Homo sapiens: one gene and its partners. The protein of the gene in region 4 interacts with the protein of the main gene of each other region in a biochemical or structural test. Each region holds a gene or a part of one and is shown on either strand. Other genes may lie near its edges.

Evidence for each region.
Region 1: the proteins of FGFR2 (region 4) and FGF3 interact in a test that uses a peptide from one of them, tested with the Homo sapiens proteins (one study listed by BioGRID).
Region 2: the proteins of FGFR2 (region 4) and FGF10 are reported together in a solved structure, tested with the Homo sapiens proteins (3 studies listed by BioGRID and IntAct, with this or other methods).
Region 3: the proteins of FGFR2 (region 4) and ANOS1 form a complex in vitro, tested with the Homo sapiens proteins (one study listed by BioGRID and IntAct).

What each region holds. Positions count from the first base shown.
Region 1 is NC_000011.10:69,816,417-69,823,637, forward strand, and holds the start of FGF3 (fibroblast growth factor 3 precursor), read right to left. Parts: upstream 3,001-7,221; 5' UTR 2,518-3,000; coding exon 2,298-2,517; exon of another isoform or gene 2,292-2,297; intron 8-2,291; coding exon 1-7. UniProt on the Homo sapiens protein: Plays an important role in the regulation of embryonic development, cell proliferation, and cell differentiation. Required for normal ear development.
Region 2 is NC_000005.10:44,309,421-44,316,420, forward strand, and holds part of FGF10 (fibroblast growth factor 10 precursor), read right to left. Parts: intron 1,111-7,000; coding exon 1,007-1,110; intron 1-1,006. UniProt on the Homo sapiens protein: Plays an important role in the regulation of embryonic development, cell proliferation and cell differentiation. Required for normal branching morphogenesis. May play a role in wound healing.
Region 3 is NC_000023.11:8,729,125-8,736,988, forward strand, and holds the start of ANOS1 (anosmin-1 isoform 1 precursor), read right to left. Parts: upstream 3,014-7,864; 5' UTR 2,913-3,013; coding exon 2,706-2,912; intron 1-2,705. UniProt on the Homo sapiens protein: Has a dual branch-promoting and guidance activity, which may play an important role in the patterning of mitral and tufted cell collaterals to the olfactory cortex. Chemoattractant for fetal olfactory epithelial cells.
Region 4 is NC_000010.11:121,483,421-121,490,450, forward strand, and holds part of FGFR2 (fibroblast growth factor receptor 2 isoform 1 precursor), read right to left. Parts: intron 4,694-7,030; coding exon 4,571-4,693; intron 4,005-4,570; coding exon 3,934-4,004; intron 2,113-3,933; coding exon 1,975-2,112; intron 384-1,974; coding exon 278-383; intron 1-277. UniProt on the Homo sapiens protein: Tyrosine-protein kinase that acts as a cell-surface receptor for fibroblast growth factors and plays an essential role in the regulation of cell proliferation, differentiation, migration and apoptosis, and in the regulation of embryonic development.

The DNA of each region.
Region 1 (7,221 bases), on a different chromosome or scaffold from region 4:
AAAATACCTAGAAGAAATGAGAGGTGCCTCACTCCCGCCGCCCCCACGGAGGGGGCGGCTGAGGCCCAGCTGGCCCTGCCCAAAGCCACACCCCGGGCTCAGGGCTGGGGAGGGTAGCACACACCCCACAGGTCGGGGAGTGAGTGGAAGTTCAGGAAGGGAGAAGTCACCGGACAGGAGGTAGAGAAGGGAACATCAGGGAAGGCTTCTCTTCATTCAAACTTGGGAGGGTAACAATGAAATTAACATTCCCACCTGCTGACGCTGCCTGCACCCTGGCTTTCATTCGAGCCTCACAACACCTTGCCAGCTGCCATCATCATCCGACAGACAAGCAAGTGGGGACCACTATGGCTGGGTGACTGTCAGGCCCCTGCACATGTGCTTGAGCGGGAAATCAAGCCCTGGCGGCAGCCATGGGAGTCTGAGCTCTGGGACTGCACGGTCCCCAATGCCTGTGCCTGCCAGCGGGAAAGCTGGGCCCTGATGAGCCAGGCTGATAATATAAACCACTGGCAATAACACAGCCAGGGTGCCTGCCACCCAGATCATGCTGGCAATAGACCTGGCGGGAGATCATTGTACTCGCCGGGGGACCTGGAAGGGCAGGAAGCCAGTTTAGACCCTGGAGCCCGCAGAGGGAAGCTGGACGGGTCTCACCCACTCCCCAGGGATAAGAAAGTTTAAATCTCCCCTCCCGCCTTTCCTTCTGGATACACGAGTGCTGTGGTGGGGGCTGGGGGCGGGGGACTACATCAAAGGACGGGTTGGGGTCATTGTCTCCCAATAGAGGCTGCGAGGGGATTGGGGCGACTGCCTGCACCCTCTCCAAGGCATGCCTCTCAGGAGCGCCCTCCTGGCACGCGGTCCGAGCACAGACGCGGTCACCACCGGGCTTTTGCTCCAGCCCAGGGGTGCTGTGGTGCAGGCTGCGAGCCTCCCGCCTTCCCAGTGCGCAGGCTGGGCGGCATCGGCGGTGCCTGACCGGGGACCAGCGAAGCACGAGTCTCGACGCAGGACAGGGGCGGCTGCGGGCGCGCGCCCTCCCCTCCCCGTGAGCAGCCTACACCAAGAAGTTTGGATGCTGTGCGACTCCGAGGGGGAGCCTGGCTTTGGAGAGAACCGGAGTGTCTTAGTGAGACGAATTCCGCGCACTCGGACCCCCTGGTGACAGCTGGTGCCCACCGTGCGGCTCCGGAGGCGCATGTCCCCAGGACGCCCTCTCAGGGCTGCGGCTTTCCTGGAGGAAGCCGCGGTTTGCTGAGGCCGCCGCCGCCACCTTCAAGCGGCGGAACCGCTTCCTGCGCCCGGGGCCGGAGCCGAGCGCCGCGCGGAGCACCCGAGGACAGCTGTGGTCTTGACTGCCCTCCCACGCTCCCCACGCGGTCCTCCCGGGCCCTGAGCTCCGCTATCCTGCTCCTCAAAGGGCTCGGCGCGGGCCTCAGGTCCCTGTGACCAGAGGAGCCCAACCGTGTAGTCCGGCAGACTCCCGCGGTGAGCGCAGCCCGGGCCGCGGGTCCTGCGTGCGGGGGCCGGAGTGTGTGTGTCTGCACCCCCAGGCCCGGGCGGACACCGTTCCGCGCTCGTGATCCGCACGTCCCGACGGCGAGGGCCTCCACCCTCCTGTCGCTGTGCGGCCAGGGCGGAGGCGGGGGAGGTGCAGATTCCAGCGCGGGGAATAACTGTCGGTGGCGGCCGCGGCCAGGGAACCGAGCTCCGCAGGGCAAGAGTCCTCCGCGCAGAGGCAGCAGCGGGGGCGGCCACCTGGGCAGCCGCGAGCGGGGAGGGCGGAGGGGACGGCGGGGCGTCCAGGGGTCGGCAGGAGGAGGAGAAGTCGTCAAAATAATAAAGAGGATGATAAATGCCTTGTCCGGCTCCTTTTCTCCGACACATTCAAAGGGCTTAAACTTGTCAGAGCTGCCCAAAGCAGCAGAGCCTGGAGCCCCGGGGTCGCCTAGCTCGCGTCCCCTCAGACCAGCGGGCCGGACCGGGGACGGACTCTGACAGCCGCCGGCGCCCTCTTCGGACGTGAACGCCCATGCCCCCGAGTTCTGCTCGAACCCCAGCGCGCGCTCTTCTCCCGGACGTGTAGGTTGAGGAGGGCACCCTGGCATTCCCCTTCTGGCAGCGGGAGGCAGACGGTCTTTTCCCGGACACCCCGGGCGCACCATGCCTTCTCCCGGGCCAGACCCCTCCCCGGCGCCGCCTCCCCCGCGGGGCCCCGCAGCGCGCCTTCTCCCGGGCCCGACCCCTCCCGGCGCCGCTTCCCCCGGGGCCCCGCAGCGTCCGGCACTCACTGTAGGCGCTGTTCTCCAGGCTGCCGTTGACGCGGCCGCTCGGGTGCAGCTGGAGGTGGTACTTCGTGGCGCAGTAGAGCTTGCGGCGCCGGGGCGCCCCGCCAAGGTGCTCGTAGACGCCGCCACGGCCGCCCGCATCGCGCCGCAACCGCGCCCCAGGGCCCGCTGCGGGCCAGCCGGGCTCCAGCAGGCTGAGCAGTAGCAGCCAGATTAGGCCCATCGTGGCATCGCGCCCGCCCCGCGGCGGCGGCGGCTGCAGGCGAGCGCGGCGCCCATGGAAGGGGCGGCAGCCGGACAGCTGCGAGGTGCTCGGAGCGGGATCCCGCGCCTGGAGATGCTGACTCCGGCTTCGCGGGAAAGGTGGGGGAAGAAGGGGGAAGGGTGGGCGAGAGAGAGAAAGAGAGGGAGAGTGGGAGAGGGAGAGGGAGAGAGGGAACGCGAGTCCCTTTAATTTCCACCCAGGAGCAATGAAATTTCCGTTGCTGCGCAAAGCGCTGAAAGAAAGGACGGTTCGCCAACAAAAGGCCGACGTGGTCCCCAGGCGGAGGCGCGGGAGGGGCGGGAGGCCGGCGGGTGGGGAGCCCCGCGGGGCTCGGGGTTCGGGCCGGGCGCCGTCTGCATACACTCGCCGCCAGCGCACCGCCGTCGAGCCGCGGCTCCGCTCCGCAGCGCGCCCCACGCCCCCGAAAGCCCTCCTGGCTCTGAAAGGTCCCCTACCCGCCCCTCCCCCGCCCCCTCCCCCAGACCAATTATGCCTCCGAAAATTATAGACCGAGGCCTTGAGGAGGCCGCCCCAGGCCCTGTCACCCCCTCCCGCTCCCCATCAATCCCCCTGCACAATGGGGCCGCCGCCGATGACTGATGTCCGTGAAAACAACTTGCGGGGAAGTCGAGCTGACAAACGCCCATTAAAGGCGGCGCATAATGAAGGGGACCGCGGAGGGCGGCGGCAGGGAGGCTCCGGGGCGCGGGCACGCGTGGGGAGCTCCGGGTTTGTGTCTGCGCCCGGCGCTTCCTGCAGGAGCAGTGGCGCTGTCCTCAGCCTTGCAAGGCGCGGGGCAGGCCGGGTCTGGAGATGCTATCTCCTTTTGCGCACACCAACTGGGCACCCGGAGTGGTGGGGTTAGCTCTCGTCTGGCAGGCCTCGGAGGATCCCGTCCCAGTGACGGTCCAGAGAGGGGCCTGGGGAGGCGGGAGGAGGGACGCGAGAGCCAGAGAAGTGGGCGCCGACAGAGAGCCCTAGAGAGAAAGAGATGCAGATAGAGACAGACAGAAACGGAGGAGGAAAGGACGGGAAAGACATGGAAAATGTGAATGACAGAGATCGCCAAAAAGAGGAGGCAGGGGAGATGGAAAGAAGACAGAGCCGCGGAGAACACCCAGAGAAAAGCACAGGGAGTCTGGTAGCCACAGCGGGTGGGTGATGACAAGAGGAACCCGGTAGAAGCTGGGAATGGGTGTGGGGGAGTCCTGGCCTGGAGGATCTGAATCAGTGCAGATGCCCAGGTGGTCCCCTGGACTGTGTGGGGGTCAAGGTGTATCTCAGGGGGCCCAGTGAAGAGGGGCTTCAAAAAGTATCGGGAAAAGCCATGTCCCCACCCATTTCTCTTGCTTCCTGGTCCTCTGTCCCCCAGGGTCCTGGGGCCAGCAGGAAGCAGGGGCCAGCACAGGGGATTTGCTTCTCTCAACCCTGCCCCAGAGGAGGGCACGCTGTGGAGTCCAGGGGTCTAGGCCACAGCTTTGGCTCCAAGTTGACCAGGGGCTCTGGGGTGAGTTGGGTGGGCTGACATTCCCCAGCCTGCCATCTGCATCAGGGTTTGGGGTCAGGCAAGTGTGCAGGGCACCATGAGCTGTGGCAGTGAGCACACACCCCTGGGACGTGTCCAGCTCCCATGGCCCAATACACACAGGGCAGTGTGTCCTCTGTGAGCCCACTCCAGCGTGCACAGGGTCCAGGTGGCCATCCTGAAGGAGGGCGCCCCCAAGCCATCCCCGAGCACCTCAGTCTTAGTCAGGGTCTCCTAGCCGCTGCCCCAGGGCCAGCTTGTGAGAGTCCTTGAACAGGCCAGAGGCCAGCCACTGAACTACTGGAGCCTCAGACTCTTGATGGAGACTGTGTTACAGGGGTCAGAGGCTGGTGACAGGAAAGCCCCAAAGGACAGCAGCAAGAGGAGAGCTTGTCCAGTGCAGCCCTGTGCAGGCCTGGGCTGGGATGTGTGGTCACCTGGGCTCCCTAAGAGGCATGGAAGAGGCACAGGAAGGAGGTCGCTGCTCTAAATGCCTTAGCTCTGCTACCTCCTGACACCTGGCCAAGAAGAGAGGAGATGTAGTGGCGGGGGTGGGGGGTGCACAAGAAATTCAGAGAGGGGTGCAGTCAGGGGGCACAGTCTGACAGAGAGAGGAGAGAGGACACAATAATGTTTTAAGAGAGAGAGAGCAAGAGCAGCCTGCTGGGGCCAGGGGACTTCCGATGCCCTTTCCTGTCAAGGCTCCGGCTGCCTCCTTGGCAGGACCCCCTCTGGAGGACTGGGAGGAGCCAGAAAAATCTGACCAAGGCAATCTGGGTGTCCATGCCCCTCCTGCTCTACACCTGGGGCCCCCAGCAGTTCCCAGGGAAACTCCCGGGCTCTGGTCTCCAGCCCTGCCCACTGCCAGGTTGCCGTGTGCCCGAGAACCCAAGATGAGGGCAGGGGCTGCTGCCCTGAAGCAGGAGTCCAAAGGTGACCCCTCTATAGGAGGGAAGCTCAGGGGATGGGCAAGAGGTTTCCAGCTCCTAGGGAGAACCTGACACACCAGCCACTCAGTGCATACTCCTAAAATGAATGAATGGTTCGGCCACTTCCTGCCACGAGGCCTTGGCTGTGTAGTGTCGCTCCTGAGATACTGGTTTCTCATGTGTGTGATGCCCCAAAGGTAGGGCCGGAAACTGAGTGGCATTACCTCTGCAAAGCCTCTGGCCTCCCATCAGCGCAGGGCATGCTCCAGCCGCAGGGGACCACAGTTTATGACGCAAACCCTGCTGCCTTTGAGAGTGAAAGAGGGCGCAATTTGCAGTTATACCAGGACAGCCGGTGCCCTGCCTGAGGTCCCTCCTGGTGGCCCTGGCTCACTGTCTGCTGTTCTGGTAAGCATGACTTTTCCGAGGCAGCCAAGCTCTCTGGGCCAAGTTTTCCTCTCTCCTCCGGTCGCTGGCGACAGCCTTCAGCCCGGTCCTTCCATCTGCGGTCCACCCTGCAGTCACGGGAAGTGGTCTGGAGCCCAAAGCTGCCTTCTCCAGCTGCCCCAGCCCCTCTGACAAATGCCGTAGTGTTGGGGGAACCCTGGGGATGCTCACCCACCCGCGTGGACCTCTAGTTCACTTCCCACATCTTCTGGGCTGCGCCTCCAGGCCCTTGCTCACCCACCTATTGAGTTCTTCCTCCTCATCTAAACCTGTTGATCTTTCCAGCCCAGGAAGCCCCCCAGACCCCCACCCTGGGACTCTGGGACCCTCAGGCCCAGCCAAGGGAGGGGAACCTGATTCCTCCACATCTGCCCGGCAGGGGCAGGGGGCTGGGCCACAAAGTCTTGTGTGTGGGGTGGGGCAGAGGCACCCACATAATGGCAACCTCGCCCCTCTCCCTCCCATTCGGAGCCAGGCGGGGGGTGCACCATGCGCTAATAGCGACCCTGTTAATTGCTTCCAAATGGTCAACTGTAGTCATTTGACTAATTGGTCTCTTCCAGAGCCCAGGCTGGACACCCCAGGCCCAGCAGAAGTGCTCCTACCAGCATCCCCCGAACCTCTGCACTGGGACCCTGTCCCCCAGAGCACCCCCAGCCCTATCTGGTACCTGAGTCTGCCCCTAGCCTCTTCCCCTGGAGAGAGAGCTGGGGTGGAGAGAGGGCAGAGAACAGGGTCCTATGGTGTGGCCGCAGGTGGCTGGCCAGGGACTGTCAGATGTGATGCTGACTCCCAGCCCCAAACTCACTCTAATTATGTTGCCTGCCCCCCCATCCTCTTACCCCATCCTTGTCCCCAAGAGCAGTGGGAGAGAGACCCAGCCTGCCTGTGTCACTGGGAGACCATGGGTCCCTGAAATTCTGGGAGCAGCCCTGATCAGCCCCACATTACAGATGAGAAAGGGAGGCTCAGAGAGGTGAAGTGACTTGCCCGGGGTCACACAGCCAGGAGATGAGGCGAGAAGACTGGAATGCCCCTTCTGGCTACGGGACCCAGGACCCGAGCAGTGGGGAGAGGGAAACCATTGCCCCTCTAAGTCCCTCTGGGGCAAAGCTGGCACTTTGCTTCTGGCAAAGTTAGGAGCCCCCGCAGGCAGGGGTGGGATGGAAGGCACATCTCCCCGCAGTGGGGCCTGCGCAGCACTTTGAGGCTCATCCACGGTGTGGCGTGTGCCAGTGTGTCCTCCCCTTTTCTGCCCTAGTGGCATTCCGTCGTGTGCACAGACCACATGCTGTTTATTTTTCATCCATGGATGGATGTTCGCCTTATTTCCTGGCTACTTGGCTATTTTGGAGCCCCAAGCTGAGACATAAAGGAGGATTCTCTCTGGGTAGAGGAGAGGAGGGAGCAGAGGGCCCCCTGGCCCAGGGACAGACACCTCCAGCTGCTCTTTTTCTTCCCCACAACACCGAGGGCAGCCTGTGCCTGTCAGTGCCTGGCATCGGGCTCCAGGCAGAGCAGCCAACAGGGCTTGTAGATGCCATCTTCTCCCTGTGTCCTCACAGGTTCGTCCCTCTGTGTGTGCCTGTGTCCTCATTACCTCTTCTTATAAGGACCCCAGTCAGATTGGACTGGGGCCATTCCACAGACCTCGCTTTACTTTAATCGCCTTTGAAAGACCCTAGCTCCAATTGCAGCCACATTCTGAGGTCCTAGTGAGTAGGGTTCCAACATACAAATCTTGGGGGACACAGTTCCGCC
Region 2 (7,000 bases), on a different chromosome or scaffold from region 4:
CTTTGCTATAGCTGATCCTTTCATACATGTAACAACCAATCATGCTGTAATTATTTCATATTTGTTAACATTTCCCCTAAATATATTATAAATTATTTGAAGTCAAGGCCCATTTCTATACTTCTTTCTTATGCATCTTTGATATGTCAAACAATATCTGGCATATAGTAGATGTTGATATGATTGATTGATGCATTTTTTTCTAAGGACTTGAGCAGGATAAATTGTCTCACTGCTTGTAATTTAATTATTATTACAATTGCAATTATAAAACAACTATTTGGCATTTTAAGTGAGATCTTAAATTTCTAAGAAATTGGTTTAAAAGAGTTTGATCCAAGATTGCAGAAGTGGTATTCCAAATACTTAACACCTGGTATGGAATATAGGCATGGATGTGCCCAAAGCACTGCAGGGATACCTGCTCCACAAGGACCCTATTGCAAAGAATATTTCCCACATATATATATATGATTTTGAGGCATAATTTGAATTAAAGGTTATTGTCTAGGTAAATAAAATTCTAGAGTTGATTGAACAACAAGCAAAATGGTGTTTCTTGACACATTTCCCCATTTCAGATTTTAACAAAATGCAAAACATCTGAGCCCTTGTTTCATCTTCAGCCGTAACGCATATATAATACATGGGTTTCTACTCAATTCAAGATCTTTGTTTTTAGTGTTTTTTCTCCAAGTTGTCTTCATTTTCCATGCCAATCTGACCGGATGCTTCCGTGAGAGCCTGACTTGGTTAGCAGTTTAGAACATTCACAGACAAATGCCAGCAGCAGCCTGTGTGGTAGACTAATGGGTGAACAACAGAGGAGATTACAGAATTGGAAGAGCTGCTTTGCCAGCCCTTGAAACAGTGGTGACTAACCCACTGTGGCTCTATTTACTAGCAATAGAAGGATAACAAAGCTATTCGGTGTCTGGAGGAAACTTTCCAAAACTATGGTAATGGTTTACTGGAGTGGATTTGAAAACAAAAGCAGAATACTTACTGAGCCATAGAGTTTCCCCTTCTTGTTCATGGCTAAGTAATAGTTGCTGTTAATGGCTTTGACGGCAACAACTCCGATTTCTACTGATGTTATCTCCAGGATGCCTAAAACATACAATTTTAAAAGGCTAAATAAAGAATCCTAAATATATTTGGAAGAAAAGTAAAATCAAAAGAAACTATTGAGTTGTTTTTTGTGTGGTTCTAAAAACAAAAGGCACAAAACATTGGTAAACAAACAAGCAAACAAGCAAATCTTTTTCAATGTGTCTTAAAACCCGGCAAGTATTTCCAGCAAATATATAGAAAAAAGTAATAAGGCTTTAAAAGAATTCCCCTTCATTTTACTCTGAGCATACATAGAAAATATTGTTTTAATTAAAATGCTTCCTTTGCTAACTCTGCATTTTCAACCCTATAAATATTGAAACAACTCTACTCATCTTAGCCTAGATTTCAAAATAACTTATCAGAGCCCATATCTGTACTATGGTATTAAATTAAATCTGTAGCACATGTCAATAATATGCCAGATTACCTCAATCTCTAAAAACAGTGATAAACTATTTCTTCTTGCTAGGATATAGATAATCTAAATCTCTTGGCTACATTTAACTGATAGATTCATTTTTGGCAAATGTGTTGACATTCTGAGATACAGGGAGACTAATCCCAACATCTGCACTGTCCCTGAAATAGCAGAATTACTGCTCTGTGTTGGGGGAAAATCCATAAACATGGATTTTTAAGGTTTTTTTTTTTCCTAGGAAAAATGGAAAATCGAGGGAAGTAGTAAGAGGTAGACAAGAGCTCCTTTTCCCCTTATACACAAGTTTCGATTGCTGCATCTAAAGATAATTTTCTCGGAAAAGTTTGTAGATCACAATAGGGAAGTCAGTTTATCGTCTACTAAAAGTGCCCACCCATTTTAGTTTAAGAAGACCTAGGGAACTAAAACTACTTATTTCATAACTCTCAGCAGTTTGTTCAGGGTAGAGAAGTAGCATCGTGATTAGCATGTGGCCTCTGGAGCCAAAATGTCTGGGTTCAACTCCTGGCTCTACATTTATTAGTGAATTACCATAGGAGAAGTCACTGAAGTGTCCCATGACTCAATTTTATTTGCAAAATGGGCAACATAATAGTACCTCCCTCATAATTTTGTTGTGAATATTAAATGAGATAGTACCTATAAAATTATTAGAATTTGCCTGGAGCTTAGTATCTTCTTAATTATCATCAGAGGGTAGTTTTTCTCCAACAGTGCTAGATTTTGGAAATTCTTCAATGGGCTATGTAAATCCTGAACAATACATACAAATTCCCATTGGCTTAATACATGAAATCTGAAAGTTGAGCATATTATCATTTGTCATGTATCATGAGAAACACCATCCCCAATGCAGTCTACAGATTATATGTTTTCACTCTTCCCATAGAGATAGAGTGGCTTAGCTTATTCTCGAGAGATGAATACCTTCTTTCCTATTCCTTCACAGGTTAGCCTTATGGAGGCCAATAGAAATGCTTGAGTTTCCCCTGTTGCCAAGTTGACATAACCAGAGACTTTGCCAAGACTACATGTCAGAGACCCTTCTGTCCATGTATCTGTAGGAAGTCTCTGACCTAACACAGCACTCCTTTTCATCAAAAGAGATATATCTCACTCTATTTGCAAGCCAAAACCAAGGAAAGATTGTGAAGGATGAAGGAGACATTATTTGTGTTTTTTTACATCCATTTCCCTTATGCTGGTAGTTTCCCTAAGGTACACACACACACACACACACACGCACATTTATTTGCATATTCTGAAAAATATTTTCTTAATTCACACAATAGCCCTCTAAGGATACTGTTGTTAGTCTCGATTACAAATATAAAAACGGAAGATACTTAGGTTATTTAACTCACACACACACAGGTGGTAAGGTGATAAAGGTCGGTAATAATGGATGTTAACACTTAAGCCTCTGACTTTTAGACTCTATTGCTCCCCATCTCTGACTACTTTGCCTCTCCATCACATCTTCCTCCTCTTTCCCATTCCTACAAGGGAACCCTGTTGCAAACCATCTGACAAAATGACTCATCAAGATAATTTTCTTTAATGACTTAATGTGCTGTTCCTCCCAAGGATGATGGCATGCCATAGAGGATAACGTCTGAATCTTAGAGAACAAAATCTAACATACTTTATTTATGTCATAAGCAGAAGATACAGAGCAGAGCAGGAGGTAGAATTCAGGGGCAAAAGATTAGGCAGCTGCTTACATTGTCTGGCCAAAAGACAAGAAAGTACTGTCAGTAAACTGCAAGATATTCTCTTATGTATACTTTTGAAACTGAAAATTAATAGAACAAAGAGGAATGAAGGATGATTTTAAGCAAAAAATAAACCAATATTTGTGAAGGTGCATGCAACGTCCTGGGATTAAACTATACTAACAGACTGAGCTATAGTAATAGTATAAGATACAACTGAATTTTTGACCCGTTATTTCTGAGGATGAACTGCAAGTGGTATTGTAGATTATATTTAGCTTAGATACCCCTTTGTTTCTTTCTGCTTTACCTGAAATGGGAGCACAATATTCAAAGACTCAATCAACCATTTTTTTTCCACTTTGCAACTAGTTTAGGCAAGCTTAAAAAGGTTTAGCTATTATTTTTATATTATTATTTAGTTATTGTTTCAAAATAGAGGGAAGACATAGGTGATTTAATATCCTTTCGAATTTTGAAAATAATTTTGGGACGCAGCGTATGGTCAGGTAAGTTATAATTTGATCATCTTGTGAGTAATGGACAATGACTGCACCTATTATAAACATCTGTGAATGTGAAAGGGGAGTTCTGAAGGACTGAAGCCTAGAGGACTTCTTTACTTTTTGTAAGGAATCACTCCAGTTTTTCTGTTCTTTGGTGAGGATGATCAAGTTTGCCTATCAAATTATTTTTGGAAAGGAGCTCCAGAATTTTGTTTGAGGATTGTTGGATCAGTAGCTTATAGTTCTATATGTGTATATTTTGAATCAAAACTAAATGCCAGTTAAAAGAGCCTCCTGGAGGAAAGTGAGTTAAGGGCATACTGGATCTCCCCGTGTTTCTTACAAGTTTATGACTCTACAATTACCTTAACATTAAAAGCTATAAAAAAAGGTTTTTTTTTTTTTAACTCAAAGAAACACCTGAAAATTATATTATTAATGAAAGGACACATGAATTATATTTCCCATTCATGTAAAACAGATATTTTGTAAATTTATAGGCATATTCTTGTAGTGAAATTCTATTATTTATATTAAGTTGTAACTATATTAGTTTTTATGTCCCTTAAAACATGAATAGCCCAGGTAGTATTGTGAATCTATTTAAGGGTCTTTGGACAATTTAGTTCAATCACTTAGGAAGACCTAGGAGGAGAAGGGTACGCTTTTAGAAAATGAAAATATAAAGTCAAATACGTAATGGCTTTTCTATTGATAAGTCTATGTACTATTGGGAATAAAAGACAAACACAGATAATTACAATAAAACATGTTACATGGCAGTAAGTGATGACTTAAGATGATGACAAGGGGACTATGGGGCAAAGGTAAAGGCAGGTCATACTGGCTGGGGTTCCACGATCAAATTATTGTTGGAGATGAGACCTGAACTGAGTCATGAAGGTTAAGAAGTGTCCAGGGGAAGGCTGGGAAGGGTGGGAAGGCAAGAGCAAATTATTAAGGTAAAACAGTATGGTGTTTTCAAATATCATAAGAGGTTTGATTTACCAACTGGAGTACAAGGAACAAGTCAGGAAGCTGGGAAAAGTGAAGTTGGGAGATAATGAGACTCAGTTTAGTAAACATCTTGTGCAGATTCTAAGAATTTTGGCAACTAGGAAGGATTTTGTCTACAAATATAAAATTGTTTAAAGAATACATTAGAAATAAAGTAATATTTAGCAAATTTCTTCAGTAAATAGTAGCAATCTATAAAGCTTATTTTAGATTATATTTAAAATCTTAAAAAATAAAGTTTGATAGTCAACATTACAAAAGCGATTATGACAAAAATCAGTTCATATTACTTTGCGAATGTTCCCTCATGATGCATCATCACCTTAGTAATGGAGAAAATTTTGTGACTTGATAATCTCTGAGTGGAAATAACTTAGAAGTCACAATTTTCGTGTAAATGCATTTTTTTCTTTTAATACTCATATATATAATTGTTTGGGCTGGTAATGTTTTGATGAGTGACTAAATAGTTAATCTGAGAAGGTGGCCATTCACAAGCATCTTTCCCAGCTGCTGCTTCTCATTCTTCTCCAGAAGAGGAGCATCTGACCTATTGTCCCCCTAGCAATCATGTTGGACAAAGGCTTCTTCTGTTTTGGTGCTATTAGAATGAAAAAGCTATTGGTCTGGAGGGTAAGTTTCTCACTAAATATTTTTCCATAAACACAAAAGGAGAAAGTATATGGCAAATAAAACTTGTATTTAATAGAATGGATATAGACAAGGAAAACTAGATGTGAAAAATAAGTGCAAAATCCTTCTATCCACTCCTAGATAAATAGAACATAAATATACAATGGAATTCTATAGACTGAGTAAATTAATTCAGCTAATGTGTATTAAGCACCAGTGTGCAGGGTAGGTGTTAGCTCTCATTCTGAAGGTTACAAAGGCAAACAAGATGTGGTCCTTGCCTCAAGGAGTTTTAAAGCTCAATAAAATAAAGACCCAAATAAGTAATGACAATACAAAAAAAAAAAAAAACCAGAAAGAAAATATATTAAGTGTGGTATGAGAGATAAAATATGTTATACATTACTTTAAATAGTGAAGCCATCCTGAAGAAGACAGCTGGTGTTTGAGGTGACTTTTCAAGAGCAGGGTTTTAATAGGGGGGATTTGGGAAGTTGAGAAGGAACATTCCAGGGAGAGAAAGTGCATGCATAAAAACAGGCTTGGAGAGAGAAAGAGCTCAAGTGCTTGAGCCACATTTCTCCCCACCTCCCCCAATGGCACTTTGAGGTGGCCACTAGCTAAAACTAAAGGTTCTGCTTCATTGAGTGGTAGTGGTGCTTTTCTGGGTGAGGAATGTACTTTCCAAAAAAAAATTATTGTGAAACGTGGAAAGTCTCATTAATTCAGAATCAGTCACATCTATTTTTCTCTAAACATTTTAACTTGAAATTGATTATAATGCTATATAGTTTTATAGTTTTAATCAAGGTGCTGAAACATATCATAGTTAGCACAATGTAAGACACAAATACTAACCTCTCTAAATGAAACCTCTCTCTCCCAAGAATTGTTGTCAGTGTCCTAAGTTCATCTATTATATCCTAGCACAGAAGGACTTAGGGAGCTCCTTGGGGTTGTTATCACATTTTCACTAATACCTCTGGGATTATGTGGCCATACCATAGTGTGAGTCTAAATGGCTCTAAATGTGGTTTTACCTCTCTTTAAAAATGAAACAAAGTTAAATGAAGTGAAGCCTCAAAACATTATGGGAACTGTAATGTCCCATGGACCAATATTGGAACTGGGCCACACAGCGGGAGGCAAGCCATAGGCAAGCGAGAGCGAGGTTTCAACTGTATTTAGCCACTCTCCATCACTAGCATTACTGCCTGAGCACTGCCTCTTATCAGATCAGTGGCAGCATTAGATTCTCACAGGAGTGCGAACCCTACTGTGAACAATGCAAGGAAGGGATCTAGGTTGCACACTCCATATGAGAATCTAACTAATACCTGATAATCTGGGGTGGAACAGTTTCATCTACAAACCATCTCCTCATTCCCTTTCGTGTAAAAAATTGTCTTCCACGAAACCAGTCTCTGCTGCCAAAAAGGTTGGGGACCGCTGGCCTATAGCTCATAGGGTTGCAAAGAATCTCAGAGAGTGGGTGCTAAATATATATTTACTGTGTGCTCAATCAGAATAGTGGCAAGTTAACCAACCTTCTATACCAATAGTTCTCAAATATG
Region 3 (7,864 bases), on a different chromosome or scaffold from region 4:
CAAGGCCTGACAGCTTTCATAATTGAGAGTCCACATACCTGGCGGGCATCCAGGCTGGAGGCCAGGCAAGCTTCTCCCATCCTTAAACATGGCCTGAAACCGTGCAAGAGAAGATGGAAACAGGCACCTGCTCCAGAGACAGCTTTATGGGTGGGCTCATTTGCAGGAGTTGGGGGCGGGGGTGACCCTGTAGGAAAGCAATCTTCTTAAGACTTCCCGTAGCCCAGTCATGAGTTGTCTGCAGACTGATTGCTCCACCTTCCTTCCTTTTTTTTTTTTTTTTTTTTTTTTTTTGAGACAGTCTTGCTCTGTCACCCAGGCTGGAGTGCAGTGGTGTGATCTCGGCTCACTGCAACCGCTGCCTCCCGGGTTCAAGGATTCTCCTCCCTCAGCCTCCTGAGTAGCTGGGACTACAGCATGCACCACTACACCAGGCTAATTTTTGTATTTTTTGTAGAGACGGGATTTCAAGTTGGCCAGGCTGGTCTCAAACTCCTGACCTCAAATGATCTGCCCGCCTTGGCCTCCCAAAGTGCAGGGATTAGAGGCATGAGCCACTGCGCCCGGCCCATCTTCCTTCTAATTATTAAAAAAAAAAAAAAAAAAAAAAAAAAAGGAAGGCAAGCGGTGGGGAACAGGGAAGCTTGGGGTTTTATAAGGAGAATGTGTTGCTGGCTTTTCAGATCTTAAAAACACTTAATCCCTGCAATTTAGATAAATCAGATAGGCATTACCAGGTTAGGGTTAAGGCTCCCAGAATGGCTTTGCAATTGATTACAAACACAGCACTTATTAAGTCTTAACTGAGTAATTTGCAGCTTATTTCACCCCCAGCTAATTAAAATGTAATCAGGATTGTCTAGCAATGTGCATTCTGTCAGCAGTTTTTCTTCCAAAGAGAAATCATGCCAAGGAGACCACAAGAAAAGCCTTTCACGGGAACTGGCTTCATCTAAGCTGGTGCTTTAGCCACTGAAACTGTAAAACAAATAAATTACAGCACTGACAATTCAAGAAAAAGAAAAAAAAAAGGTACTCTTTCTCCCTGGGAATAGGCTGCTCCGTTTTGTTTTGTTTTCTGTTGTTTCAAACAATAGTGTGGCATCTTAGGAGAGTGACTTTCAGGGTAGGACTCGGAGGGCTGGAAACCAGGTGCCTGGGGATCGGCCCTCTCCTGGCTCTGTCCAGGATGTCTGGGTAATTTCACCACAGGAGGTGAGCACTGGGTCTTCCATTCCCTGAAGACGCAGAAGGACTACAGAGCGTGCCCATTTCTCTGACACCCACGAGACGCTGCTTCTACGACTTAGAACAAACTCAACTGCACACTCGCGAACGCGCCAGCTTCACCAGCCGGTTCAAGATCATCCCCGAGGGTAAGGGGAATCACTTCCACATTCCACCCTTATTAATATGGCCTCCTCTGGCAGCTTAATTCCCAGGGCCTCTAGGGGGACCCCCCCCCCCACCCCTTGACCCAGCTCTGGCAGGAGGGGCGCCCAGTTTAAGAGCCAAGGGTTTGGCTTCCAGTTCCCGCCCAGCCAGGGGAACCCCTCCCCCCAGCCCCCATTTCTCCTTTTGGTCCCTCCAGAGTTTCCCTGAAGCGAGAAATTGGGAACTTGGAACAGGTGGGCACCTAGGGATAGAGGCGAGAAGAAGAAGGAGAGAAGGATGAGAGAAGAGAAAAATAAGCGGAGGATTTCAGAGCTCGCACGCTCGACAGGGCTGGTACAGGCAGCAGCTGCACTCGCTCGCGCTGAGTCCGGAACCTGCTCTCGTGCGCCCACCCGCACCCGGAGCCTCGCGCAAGTCCCGCGGGGGTCCGCGCCACAGGGCAGAGTCCCGGCAACCCGCTGGAGCCAAGCGCGCGGCTCCCGGAGCCTCCCACACAAGCGCGCGCGCACACACACATACTCCCCACCCTCAGGCTGAAAGAACCTACGTTCGGGGTTTGGGGGACGGTTCCCCCGGGACTCGTTGAGGAGTATCCGAATACGGCCCCGCCAAATCCCCTGTCCCCGGCACTTCTTCCCTGACGCTCTACGCTAGTCCAGGGCAAGACCTTGAATCTTTGGGGTTCCGAATTGAGGCGCGCACAGCCACTCGCACCCCCAACACGCGCATACACGCACCCTGGAACACGACTTGGCACAAGTACCCTGGCTGGGGCTCCAAGGGTGGGCAGCGAGCTCTGAGCCCTCAGAGAGTGAAAACCATCTTTCAAAAGAGACAAAGTGTCGGCCCGCGGGCACCTGCGGGGCTGGGGCTCGAGGTGAGGTCCCCAGGCGCAGCCGGACGCGCCTCCCAGACTCCCTCCCAGTGCCCCGGAGCGCCTGGGACTTTGCGGGAGTCGCCGCCCGCCCGGAGTCTCGCGCACTCCAATTCCCGGGAAACCGCCACATCCACACACCCACTCCCAGCATCCACGACTCTCCCTCCCCAGGGAAATCGCCTTTGGTTTCCTGCTGGGAAGGAGGGAGTTGGGGCAAGATGTCTCGGGCTTCTTTTTCTTTTCAGGAGCCGGGAAGAGGCTGGAAAGGAGAGTTCCAGCACCCCGACTGTAAGATCCACGCCCAGGGGAAGCCAGGATCAGCCGGCGGCGCTGGCCGAGAACTTTGCGAGCCCAGGCTGGGAGGCGCGCGCCCCGGTGCGCCCACGCCGCGGCCGCAGCCCCAGAAAGAACCCGGGCGGGGGCCTCCCCGTACCTGGAAGTGCTGGAAGAAGGCGGAGATGCGAGTGATCTGCAGGCTCAGGCACCTGGAGGCGCAGCGAGCGCGCTGGACGCTCCCGGCAGACAGCGACTCGTCCAGCCGCCGCGCAGCAGCCGCGCCGGGGCCGGCCGCCAGGCAGCCGCTGGAGGCCGCCAGCCAGAGGCAGAGGGTCAGGACCGCGCCGGGCACCCCGGGCACCATGGCTGCGGGTCGAGGGCGAGGGCGAGGGCGCCGGGCGCGGGCCGAGGCTCCCTGCTCCGCGCCGGGGCTGCACTGCTGAGGACCAGGCAGACGCCGCGACTGAGCCGGAAAGTTCAATCCTTCAACTCCGGCCGGACCCTCCTCGCCGACCTCCCTCCCAGCTCGCCCTCGAGGGGTGGGGTGAGGGGGACAGGAGGCCGCACCATTGGCTGGAAGGCGTGTGAGTGACAGGGGGGCCGGGCGCAGGGCCCATGGGCCGGTCTCGTCAGCTGCGAGCCCGGGCGCTCCGGGGGAGGGCGACGCCGAGCGGCTTTCCACGCCGCGCAGGTCTCGAGGGGCCCAGCTCCCACGCAGGCGCCTCTCCCGTTCGCACCAACCGCTTCCTGCCCCTCCCACCTTCCCCCTCCGTCCAGGTAAACGTCGGTGTGAGCAGGTCCAGGCCTGCCAGGAGGGGTGCTCCCTTCAGCAGGAGGGAAGAGGCCTCAGGACCCCCAGGGGCGTCCCACCTGCCTGGGGATTGACCCCGCGCCCCTAAGTGGCTTGCTTTCTCCCCGACCTCCCCTGGGTCCAGGCTTTTCCCACGCTTTCACATATTCGAATTTCCTTTGCCCAGGTAGTGGAAAGAAGTGAAGAAAACAAATGGCAGTAAGACAGACGGGGAGGGGAGCGTGGACATTTGCCCTACAGTGTCCCGGAGACAAATTCCTCCTTCTCTCCCTCTTGCATTTCTTCCGTCCTTCCCGCATCCCTCCCTCCCTCCCTCCCGCACTGTTTTCCCTGGAGACAGTCTCAGTGCATAGCTAACCACCTTTAGGTCCACACGCCTTGTTTCCTCAGGTGTCTGTTTTTCTAGTAAGCCTTGCACGCCCCAAAGTGAGTGATTTATTCTAAATAGACTTGCGTCTTAATCTCTTTCTTTCCCCACGATTTGCCCGAGCCTCTTGACTCAGGCTTTTTAGCTTTGGAATGGCTGCTCCGTCCTCTCCTGTCGTTTTTGTCTAGTGTTCTCTCAGCACACAAATTCTCCCTCCCCAGCCAGGATCCTGCCACAGAAAGACAGGAGGCATTGATAAGACACAACTTGTAACAAAGCTCTACACTCCCCTGAGCCCCATCAGGAAGTGACAGTCCCCTTGCAGGTAGGAGAGCCCAGAGAAAAAAGACCCAGGCACACTCCTATTCGAATGGACAACAACTGACTGCTGTTCCTTTGCTCTGACATCTCCACCCTCTCCTACCCAATTGCACTTTCACCTTCGAAAACGGGATCTCTATAAGCACCCAGCTAAGCACAGTCAGGGTATCTAGATGCACTCGCTCTACTCAAAGCTACATCAGAAGGCTGGAATCCTCTTTGCACAAAGCCTATATAGTTGTTTTGCAATTTCCCACCCTTTTCCCTATTCTTATACACAGGTTCCACTCTGCAATTTTGAGATCTGCCTGTTAACAAATTGCAATGACAGCCATCTGCAGCTATCCTATTATGAGTGCTTTTCAAATACATCATCTTACATGTGTATTTCTTCACATAGCTTAAATCAGAAAGGCCAGTCAAATTAATTGGCCTTGGTGTGTTTCTCAGCGAATTAGAAAATCAGGGTCATCTTGTTCAAAAGGTTCTATAGGCAAAGCCAGTTTCATGGACATGCAAGCTGTACAATGGTACAGTCGCACTCTTAGAAGGCCTGTTCTGCCATCACCATCCTGAAACTCTTCACAATGACAGTGGCCTGTTAGGAACTGGGCCGCGGCAGGCCAGGGAACATTACTGCCTGAGCTGTGCCTCAGGTGAGAAATCAGTGGCAGCATTAGATTCTGATAGGAGCTTCAGTCCTATAGTGAACTATGCATGCGAGATGTCTAGGTAGCGCACTCCTTATGAGAATCTAATGTCGATCTGAGATGGAGCAGTTTCATCCCCAAGCCATCACTTGCTACCCCCAGGTCCATGGAAAAATTGTCTTCCATGAAACCAGTCCCTGGTGCCAAAAAGGTTGGGGCCACTCTTTACTTGGGCTGGAAACCTAGTAATTTTGGCATAAGCTTACACGACTTCAATGATTTGTTTTAAAATTGCTCAGAATTGCAAATGGAAATATTTTTTAAGTATGTTAAACATAATATTAACGAAGAGTAAAGAAGCTAACTATAATGACCCCAAGCAGGCATGTGTATAAAGCCAAGTGTCAATAAATAATGATGTCTGAATACCGAGATTGTCTTCTAAATGTTGTCACTTTCATTTGTGAATTACTAAAAACATTTCCAAAAGCTGTAGGGGATCCTTTCCTAGTGTTTGTTTGGAGTTGTTTTGTTTTGTTTTGAGACGGAGTCTCACTGTCACCCAGACTGGAGTGCAGTGGTGCAATCTCGGCTCACTGCAACCTCCGCCTCCCGGGTTCACGCCATTCTCCTGCCTCAGCCTCCCGAGTTGCTGGGACTACAGGCGCCCGCCACCACGCCCAACTAATTTTTTGTATTTTTAGTGGAGACGGGGTTTCACCGTGTTAGCCAGGATGGTCTCGATCTCCTGACCTCGTGATCTGCCTGCCTCAGCCTCCCAAAGTGCTGGGATTACAGGCGTGGGCCACCGTGCCTGGCCTGTTTGGAATTTTAAAGTTAAGCAAATATGTGGTCTTGGTGAAGGCAAAGATATTATGTACACCGACATTTTCTTAGGTAACTTTGATTTATAATTTTGCATGTCATATCATGAAATGCATATTCCAGAAAGTGAAATCACAAGGACAAGCATGCTGAGCTTTTAAAAACAGCCTTTGGATGTTCACAGGGGTTGCCGTTTTTTTTTTTTTTTAAAAAGCAGTGTGTGTGCTACTTATATGGGTTCCATAGCATATTCATTTCTATGAATAAATGCGTTTTGTAATAAACCACAAAGGAGAACAGTCAGTTTAACAGAAAACTTGGTTTTAAACATATAGAGCCACCTTATTATAAATATGTTAAAATAATATTTGCAGTTATATTGCTTTCTTCCTTTAGAATAATCACAGACATCCTCTGTGATTACGCAGGCCTTTCTCATATTATTTACTTTAATTGCAGCTTAAAGTAACTTTTAAAAGGAAAGCATTCTAGTAAAGTCAGAATAACAGTCAAATTTCGGTGTTTTTTTGTTTTGTTTTGTTTTCATTCTGCCCATGTATGCCCAACTTATTATGCAGCTCACCTTGCAAACTGAAACATGGAAGTTCTCTGACTTTTGACATTACCAGGTAAGCCACAATCTAAGTTCATGAAAGCCAACCACAGGGGAGGAGAACCCTAAGAGTATGCTGAGGAAATGATGGATAAAGGGGTAGGACCCTCGGGTGCAGCTAGTAAGACGGTACTTAGTATGTCTTTCTCCAAATCTCCTTGACCCCCATGATCCGAATTTGTCTAGAGAAGAATTTAACTTCACATTGACTTTGGTTTGACTTAAATAGACAAACACACATTTAACAAAGAGAGTAGAAAAGCACCTTAATTATCTCTTATTTATATCTACATGAACAAAGATAGACCAAAATGTGTGGTTGTCTTGGTCAGGTTCTGGAGAAATCACACAAAATAAAGCCCTCTTTCACAGTTTCCAAAAATTATTATTTTCCTTGTATTTTAATTATTGGTTTTTCTTTTCTTTCTTTTTTTTTTTCCTGTTTTTCTGCAGAGAATGAGAAACACCTGAAATCTTTACTAAACATAGACTCCAGGGCCCTAAATTGAGAGATTCTGAGTCAGTATATCCGGGGTGGAGGGTTGAAATGTCAGCTTTTAAATAATACCCCAAGTGATTCTATACAAATTCAACCAGGGACTACACTTTGAGGGATAATTGATTTTAAAAGTACATCTGAAGCCCGACTCGGTGGCTCATGCCTATGATCCCAGCACTTTGGGAGGCCAAGGCAGGAGGATCACTTGAGCTCAGGAGTTTGAGACCAGCCCGGGCAACACGGTGAAACCCCATCTCTACAAAAAGTACAAAAATTAGCCAGGAATGGTGGTAGGTGGTAAACATCTGTGGTCCCAGCTACTCAGGAAACCTAGGTGGGAGGACTGCTTGAGCCCAGGAGGTCGAGGCTGCAGTGCACCCAGATCATGCCGTTGAGTTCCAGCCTCAGTGACAGGGCCAGACCCTGTCTCAAAACAAAAAACAAAACAAACAAATAAAAAAAAGTACATAACCATTAAAAATGGTACAAAAAATTTTATTTAAATAGCATCTATGATTTACTGTTGTTTAAAGTATCTTTTTTTAGATGTGTGTTTATATGGATTGGACATACTAGTCTATTTCTTAACAATCAAATGGACATATTTTTCCAGTACATTTAGCTAAGACTCTCTTAGACTCATTGTTTTTTTCAGAAAGCAACTTGCCTTTTTAAAGGGCTTTCAGCTACACTGGATAAGGATAAAGTTTGAAGGTAGCAAATATAATCTTTATCTGACATGCCTCTCTTGGAAAAGCAAAATGAGAACTCACTCAAAACTTGGAGAACAAATACTTAAATATGACAGCATTTAGGAGTCATGAACAAAACGACATCGTCCCTGGTTTTGGTTCTCAGGGGAAAGTAAAGTGAGGGGAAGAAAGTCACAGATGAGGTCTAGTTTCCTTTCTAGTTGCCTCCATTTGATGATGCAAGAGTGTGCATCTTCCCTTAGAAACTGCAGTTCACTTCAGGAAAAGCAACAGTGGCAAGATGAAGGAGTGTGCCCTGCAAGCTCACTGGCCATGACCCATACTTCCACCCTCTCAGGCAATGTTCTCAGGCTTTGCTAGCTCAGTTCCGCTAAAGCTCTTCTTTAACCGCTTTCCTTCTCCTCCAGACTTAATTTCTCTTCTGCACAGCACAGGATACAATTAATAACTGAATGGATAAATGTCAGATTTTCATCTTTCGCAATATGGTTTCAGGCAGGAATGAGGTGTACCTTTA
Region 4 (7,030 bases):
CCACATACCCCGGACTGCTCCACCAGCAGCTACACTGAAGGCAGCCTCGGGGATGTCCCTCTGTCTTTGGTTTCATGAGTCAGAACTCACAAAATGAAGTTCTGAGAAAAATCATGATTTGAGAGGAACCCATAGTTGAACTATCTGACCCTATGGAAAAAGAATAAACAAGACCACAGACTCCAACCAACAGCCAACAGGGGAGTGTGTGTGTAAAACACTACGCATGTCTCACAAGACAACCAAGGACAAGGGGCTTCTAGAAGGAAGTTCTTACCTCATTGGTTGTGAGAGTGAGAATTCGATCCAAGTCTTCTACCAACTGCTTGAACGTTGGTCTCTGGGAGGGCACTGCATGCCAACAGTCCCTCATCATCATGTACCTGGGAAAAATGGATTTCCTTGAATTAATTTCATATGCACTGGGTACGTGGTTATAGTCAGTTTTAATAGGCAATATGGGGACGTGGTGTAAATTAGGAAAATGCATCAGAACCTTCCAAGCAACTAGATTAGGGGGTCATGAATCACTTTCCCAAAAGCTTCCCTGCCAGTTCCTCCGAAAGGCACTTTGACTTACAAAAACATGTTAGAAAGGCATCGAAGCCATCAAGAAAGACACAGCTATGTGTTTTCCCTGGTAACCCTGGGCCACAGTGACATCTCACAATGGCGTCACACCCTAAAGATGCTTTGGAGGCTGAAGGAAAATGCGTATTTCCATGGGCTGGTCTCCAGTCTTCCCTCCCCTGACACCCTGCCCAGCACCAAAGCAGCTCCACTATTTATCTGCCCGGTGCTTTGGGTCTTAATGATTCTAGTTGACACAGCTTCCTGAGTTAAAAAAAAATTAAATAAAATTTGAAAACTACAACTTCAAGTTTTTGATGAATTAATCTGCCACCACTGGGCTGCACACTAACTTCCTGATTAACTCTTAGATAGGCTTAGCTTCCCAGGTCTTATCTTGATTTTGGGTTTCGACAGATCCTCTACGTTACAAAAGAAAAAAAACAATAGGAATGACAAAGAGCACAATAAATGCCTTTATATAATATGCTATAAAATGTGGCCATTCATCAGACATCCACGGTACACCGAAAAGCACTCACGGGATTACTGATATAAAATCCCCATGAAATGATACACAATAGACCGCAGTTTCTGGGACAATCACTCTTCTTAGTTAATCCTGGAGGGGTTGAGGCAGGAGGCAGAGAGACTCCTTTCAAAGCACTGATTCTATTGCACCAGGCACACGTCACAAACACAACATAACTCCACTTAAAGTGTGAGGCAGGTTTTGCTACAAACCAGTTCATGGTTTTACAGGCAGATCTGGTACAGTAAGGAGGGCGCCTGGACACATGTTTAATTCTCTGCACTAAAACACAAGTGAGACCTAGGTAACCAAACACGAGTTCCTTCGCTCTGAGGAAATGTGGTTGGCGTCAATCTGTAATGGCAATTTTCAATGGTTCGAGAAGTTCTGGAAACACCGATTCTCTACTGGCCACGATGGGGCCAGGCGGGGGCCAGGCACAACCACCAGGGAAAGGCTGTGTTGGTTCCTTAATCCTACACCCTGCAGGGCGGCCCCGCGGCTTTCTAGCTTGTTTCCTGACCCGTGGGTCTTCCTGTCACTCCACGGGAGACCGCAGAAGGTGCAGCACAGTGGCCCAGGAAGACCACTCCTGCTGGCTCTGCAAAGTCAGGAGCCCTCAGCCAGGCAGCCAGACACCCTCTGATCCAAAGCCCTCTCCATACTCAGAATAATGTTCTTTCTCTCAGACAAGTAATGGTTGTCGGTGTCGCTATGTATCCCAGCTCTGGATTGAGCCCAGAGAGCTTCAGCCATTCTTCTTAGAGCATGTTTAGGAAACCAGGGGCCTTCAAAAACGAGATACATCAGGAGAGGTATTACTGGTGTGGCAAGTCCACTGGGGCACCGGCAGGAAAGACAACAGCCCTTACAGTTCGTTGGTGCAGTTGGCTGGCTTATCCATTCTGTGTCCTTCCTTCAGCAGCTTAAAAAGTTCCTCCACGGGAATCCCTGGGTAGGGCGAGCCCCCTAAAGTGAAGATCTCCCACATTAACACCCCGAAGGACCAGCTGCAACAAAAGGAGAAAGCACGGCATTACTAACCCATCCACGTTGCCAAAACCTAAACACGCCCAGCTGAGACATAAACACCTCCTCACTTCTGAAGTTCAAAGACAAATGGGCCCTCCTGCAGTTCCTCCTATGTGCTCTTTCCTGCCCTGCAAGAGCATCCCCGAATGATGATGACACGGGGATGTGCTGATGGAATTTTCCATCAATAGACAAAAAGGCAAACTGCCATCACTCTGGAATAGAGCTGCTTGTCTTAAATGTGGTGTTAGCAATGCAAGGATCTCAGTTTCTCAGTTTCAAAGCCTTTACGCTCCTTTCCAACTCCTTATGTGCCTGACCCAAGGGTTGTGATCTACCAGGATGGGCAGTTGACAGAATAAGGCCAGCAAGCCAACTCCGCAGGATCACAGCTGCCCTGTGTGGCTGGCGGAACATCTGCTGCACAGAGGCTCTGGAACTTACTAAGATCGCAAAGGCAATCAGCACTGGGCTGGGGTTAGGATGAGGAATCACATGCCCCAGATGAGTTGCACACAACAAAACTGAACACATCTCACAGGCCATAATTTATTTACACTTGACTCTTCAGAGATTTGGACTTCCTGTGCCAAGTTCAGGAGGCTCAATCTCTGGGAGGAGCAAGCTGAGAGAGCCAGGTTTAGCTACATCATGGTCGTTCTGGAAACTCAACCTTCTGTACTCGATGGTGGTGTTTCACTCCGCAGTTTTCTACAGAGCAAAAGCAGCAGCACAGGACAGGCAGAACAGCCTCTGTGCCTCAGTTGCTCACAGCAAAAATGGGATAGTCATGTCTTTTTTTTAGGATTGTTGAGAGGACCAACTATGGTAGCACAGAATTAATGCCTACCCAGAACTCCTCCTGCTCATACAAATAAAAAATAGTTCAAGTGATTTTTTTTTCCCCAGACAGAGTCTCGCTCTGTTGCCAGGCTGGAGTGCAGTGGCACAATCTCAGCTCACTGCAACCTCTGACTCCCAGGTTCAAGCGATTCTCCTGCCTCAGCCTCCCAAGTAGTGGAGATTACAGACACGCATAACTACGCCCAGCTAATTTTTGTAGTTTTAGTAGAGACGGGGTTTCACCATGTTGGCCAGGATGGCCTTGATCTCCTGACCTCGTGATCCACCCGCCTTGCCCTCCCAAAGTGCTGGGATTGATTACAGGTATGAGTCACTGCACACAGCCTTCAACTGAATTTTCAAATCTAAAATATCAGTTGGAGCCTGACCCCACTGGTTTTGTCAGTATATCATAATAGAAATATTCTACTGTGTTTCTAGAATGCTATCAAGGATGCCAAAGCAAGATCAGACCTTTTTGTTGAGGGATAAACATAGAGAGTAGACCCTGTGGAGGTCCCCAGCCTGGACCACATCTCACTCAGCTCCACTCTTTAAGGACAAATCTGGGTTAGAGGGAAATATGACAAACTACTCGTAAGTGGGAAAAGCTCCAGGATTACTCCTTTAATGGAGTGAAGAACATGCCAAGAGCTTGGCGAATTAGATAACCGCTTTGTAGTTGCACATCCATGAATATGTTCAAGGGAAGGACTTCCGCTCTGGCAGGGGGAGGTCAGCAGTTCCACCTTCTGTGCTCTTTGAAGCCAGGCAGATTAGTAACAGAGCATTGGTTATCAGCCTACCATAAAATCTGTCCTTTCTAAGGCCAGCTCCTGCACCTTCTACGAATGTGTGAAATGCAGCAGCCACTAAAGAAGGAAGAAAGGTGAAGTACGTACAGTATTTTTGCAGCTCAAGCCCAGGAAAAAGCCAGAGAAAAGAGAGTTACTCACACATCACTCTGATGAGTGTATACTCTATCAAACAGGGCTTCTGGAGCCATCCACTTGACTGGAAGCCGCCCCTGCAAATGTAGAGGAAAATGCAAAAACTAAATATATTTAAAAGAATTTATCTTAGCAGGCTCAATAGGGCTATGCCCTGTTTAAGAGCTGATATTCTCGGTTTTTACTAGTCAGTCAATAGAGCAGAAATCAGTCCCAATGAGGACCATGAACAATGTGTGAGATGCACAGGTCTGGGCCGTTAATAAAATGCCATCTCCTTGGATTCTATCCTTTATCTCCCTAGCACACAGATGCTCCTTGACCAGTTATTAGGCAAAAATTAAACCAGTAACTTCCAAGCTGTAGTTTTTGCTATGAAAGTTCTTGATGAGAACCATAAGAAAATCCTAGCGGTTGCTGATTATTCTGTATATAAGTGTTTCACATTTACTAAAATTGACATAATAGAGGCTAAATTTGCATATTGAGAGTTTGTGAATAGTAAGTCAAAAGAACGGGAATCGGGGCAGGGGAATGGGTCCCCAGCCATCCCACCCAGCTCTCAACATTGACGGCCTTTCTTCCTGGAACATTCTGAGCCTCACCCCCGCCCCTGCCCACTGTGTTACTGCCATCGACTTACATTGGTGGTCTTTTTGTAATAGTCTATATTGTTGATATCTCTGGCGAGTCCAAAGTCTGCTATTTTCATCACATTGTTTTCTGTTACCAAAACATTTCTGGCTGCTAAATCTCGATGAATACACTGAAATCAAGAAAGAAGCAAGAGAAATAACTAATTTCAAAACACCGCCAGAACAAAAAGGAAATATGTTCATTTCTTAAAATGCAGATAGAAAATATAGCTGATGTTAAAAACCAGTTGCGGTATACTATAAGAAATACAGTGTGGCCGGGTGCGGTGGCTCATGCCTGTAATACCAGCACTTTGGGAGGTCAAGGTGGGCGGATCACTTGAGGTCAGTAGTTCGAGACCAGCCTGGCCAACACGGCAAAATCCCATCTCTGCTAAAACTACAAAAATTAGCCGAGCGTGGTGGTGTGCACCTGTAGTCCCAGCTACTCAGGAGGCTGAGGCACAAGAATCACTTGAACCTGGGAGACAGAGGTTGCAGTGAGCTGAGATCACGCCATTGCACTCCAGCCTGGGTGACAGAGTGAGACTCTGTCTCAAAAAAAAAAAAAAAAAAAGAAAGAAAAGAAAAGAAAACGCAGTGTGGCTCTAAGATTAAGAAGACAGGTCAACTGGGATCATCGGAGAGCCTGGATCACGACATGTATTTGTTTTGGAATTATAAATAAATAGAATGATCATTTTGAAGAGCGAAGGTAGACTAAATAACCATATTCTCTTCTACCTCCAGTTGTCCAGCCACACCAGTGTCTTTCTTTCAGCTGCTTATAGATCTGTATCTGATCATCCTAAAATCTTTTCTCTCAACACTTGCTCTCCTGCCCTTTAAACCTGAATTTTCAGAAGCGTTGGTTAAAATCCAACATTGTGTCTTCTTCATTCCTGGTCACTTCTCAAACATTCTAATCTGTGTTCCACTCTTGCCTCTCCTGAAGCTTATGAAGAACCTCTGAATTGTTAGACGCAAATGACGTCCTCCAACTCCTCAGTTGTTCCTCCTCTGTGGCTTCAGATGCTATTGATTTCTTGCTTGTTTTTTAAAATGGTCCCTCTGTTTAGGTTTTCTTGTTTTTGTTTTTTTTGTTTTAACATGGAGTCTTGTCCTTGTCGCCCAGGCTGGAGTGCAATGGTGCGATCTTGGCTCACCGCAACCTCCGCCTCCTGGGTTCAAGCGATTCTCCTGCCTCAGCCTCCCGAGTAGCTGAGACTACAGGTGCCTGCCACCACACCCGGCTAATATTTTGTATTTTTAGTAGAGACGGGGTTTCACCATGTCGGTCAGGCTGGTCTCGAACTCCTGACCTCAGGTGAGCCATCCGCCTCGGCCTCCCAAAGTGCTAGGATTACAGGTGTAAGCCACCACACCCAGCCCCTCTGTTTAGTTTTATCCCGTCCCCTTCCCTCAGCTGCCTCTCTGTCTCTCCCTGCCCTCTTAGAATCTCTGGCTGGCTCTTCTCTTTTTCTGTCCCTTCAAATAGAGGAATTGTTCCATTAAGTTTATGTATTTCCATATATCCTCAAGGCATTAATTCTAAACACATACAAAATATGCGCAAGTTCGTATCTCCATCATGACCTCCCTCCTGAGACCCATGTTCTCATTTTCAACTGTCTATGGGACACTTCCCCACTGACATTCCCTTGACGTCTCAAATTCAAGGTTTCAACTCCTCCAATGCTTTGTCTCTCTTAATCGGAGAGCTATACACCGGTATTCTTTACACATTCCTCCCAAGTCCTGTTGATTTCAACTCCAAAATGCCTTCCCATGTGTCCACACCATGCCTTTCCCACTGCTAATGCCTTAGTCCAGGCCATCTTCACTGTCTGCCCCTCCCCCTGAGACTTCCACACTGCCCGTCTAGCGGGTCTCTACGCTTCCAAACTTAGCCCTGTTGTACCTCCTCCATGTCCCATGACTAAGGTTCCTGAAATGACTAGTCATGTCCTTTCTTGGTCTCTACCATGGCCAATGCCCGTCTATCCACGTTCTCAGTCCAGTTTCTCCTAACACCTGGCCTCAGCCTGAATGTGCCACATACACTGATTCTAAACACTGAAATATTAAATACTTGCTGCAGAACAGCTAATTTATTGTCTTGACACTAACTCTTGGGTCTCAGAAAGATCTAGCTATTACGACTTTTCCTTCTTTTTTTTTTTTTTTTTTTTTTTTTTGAGACGGAGTTTCACTCTTGTTTCCCAGGCTAGAGTGCAGTGGCACGATCTTGGCTCAATGCAACCTCTGCCTCCCAGGTTCAAGTGATTCTCCTGCCCTCAGCCTCCCAAGTAGCTGGGATTGCAGGTGCCCACCACCACATCAGGCTAATTTTGTATTTTTGGTAGAGATAGGGTTTCACCATGTTGGTCAGGCTGGTCTCAAACTCCTGACCTCAAGTGATCCACCCGCCTCGGCCTCCCAAAGTACTGGGATTATAGGCGTGAGCC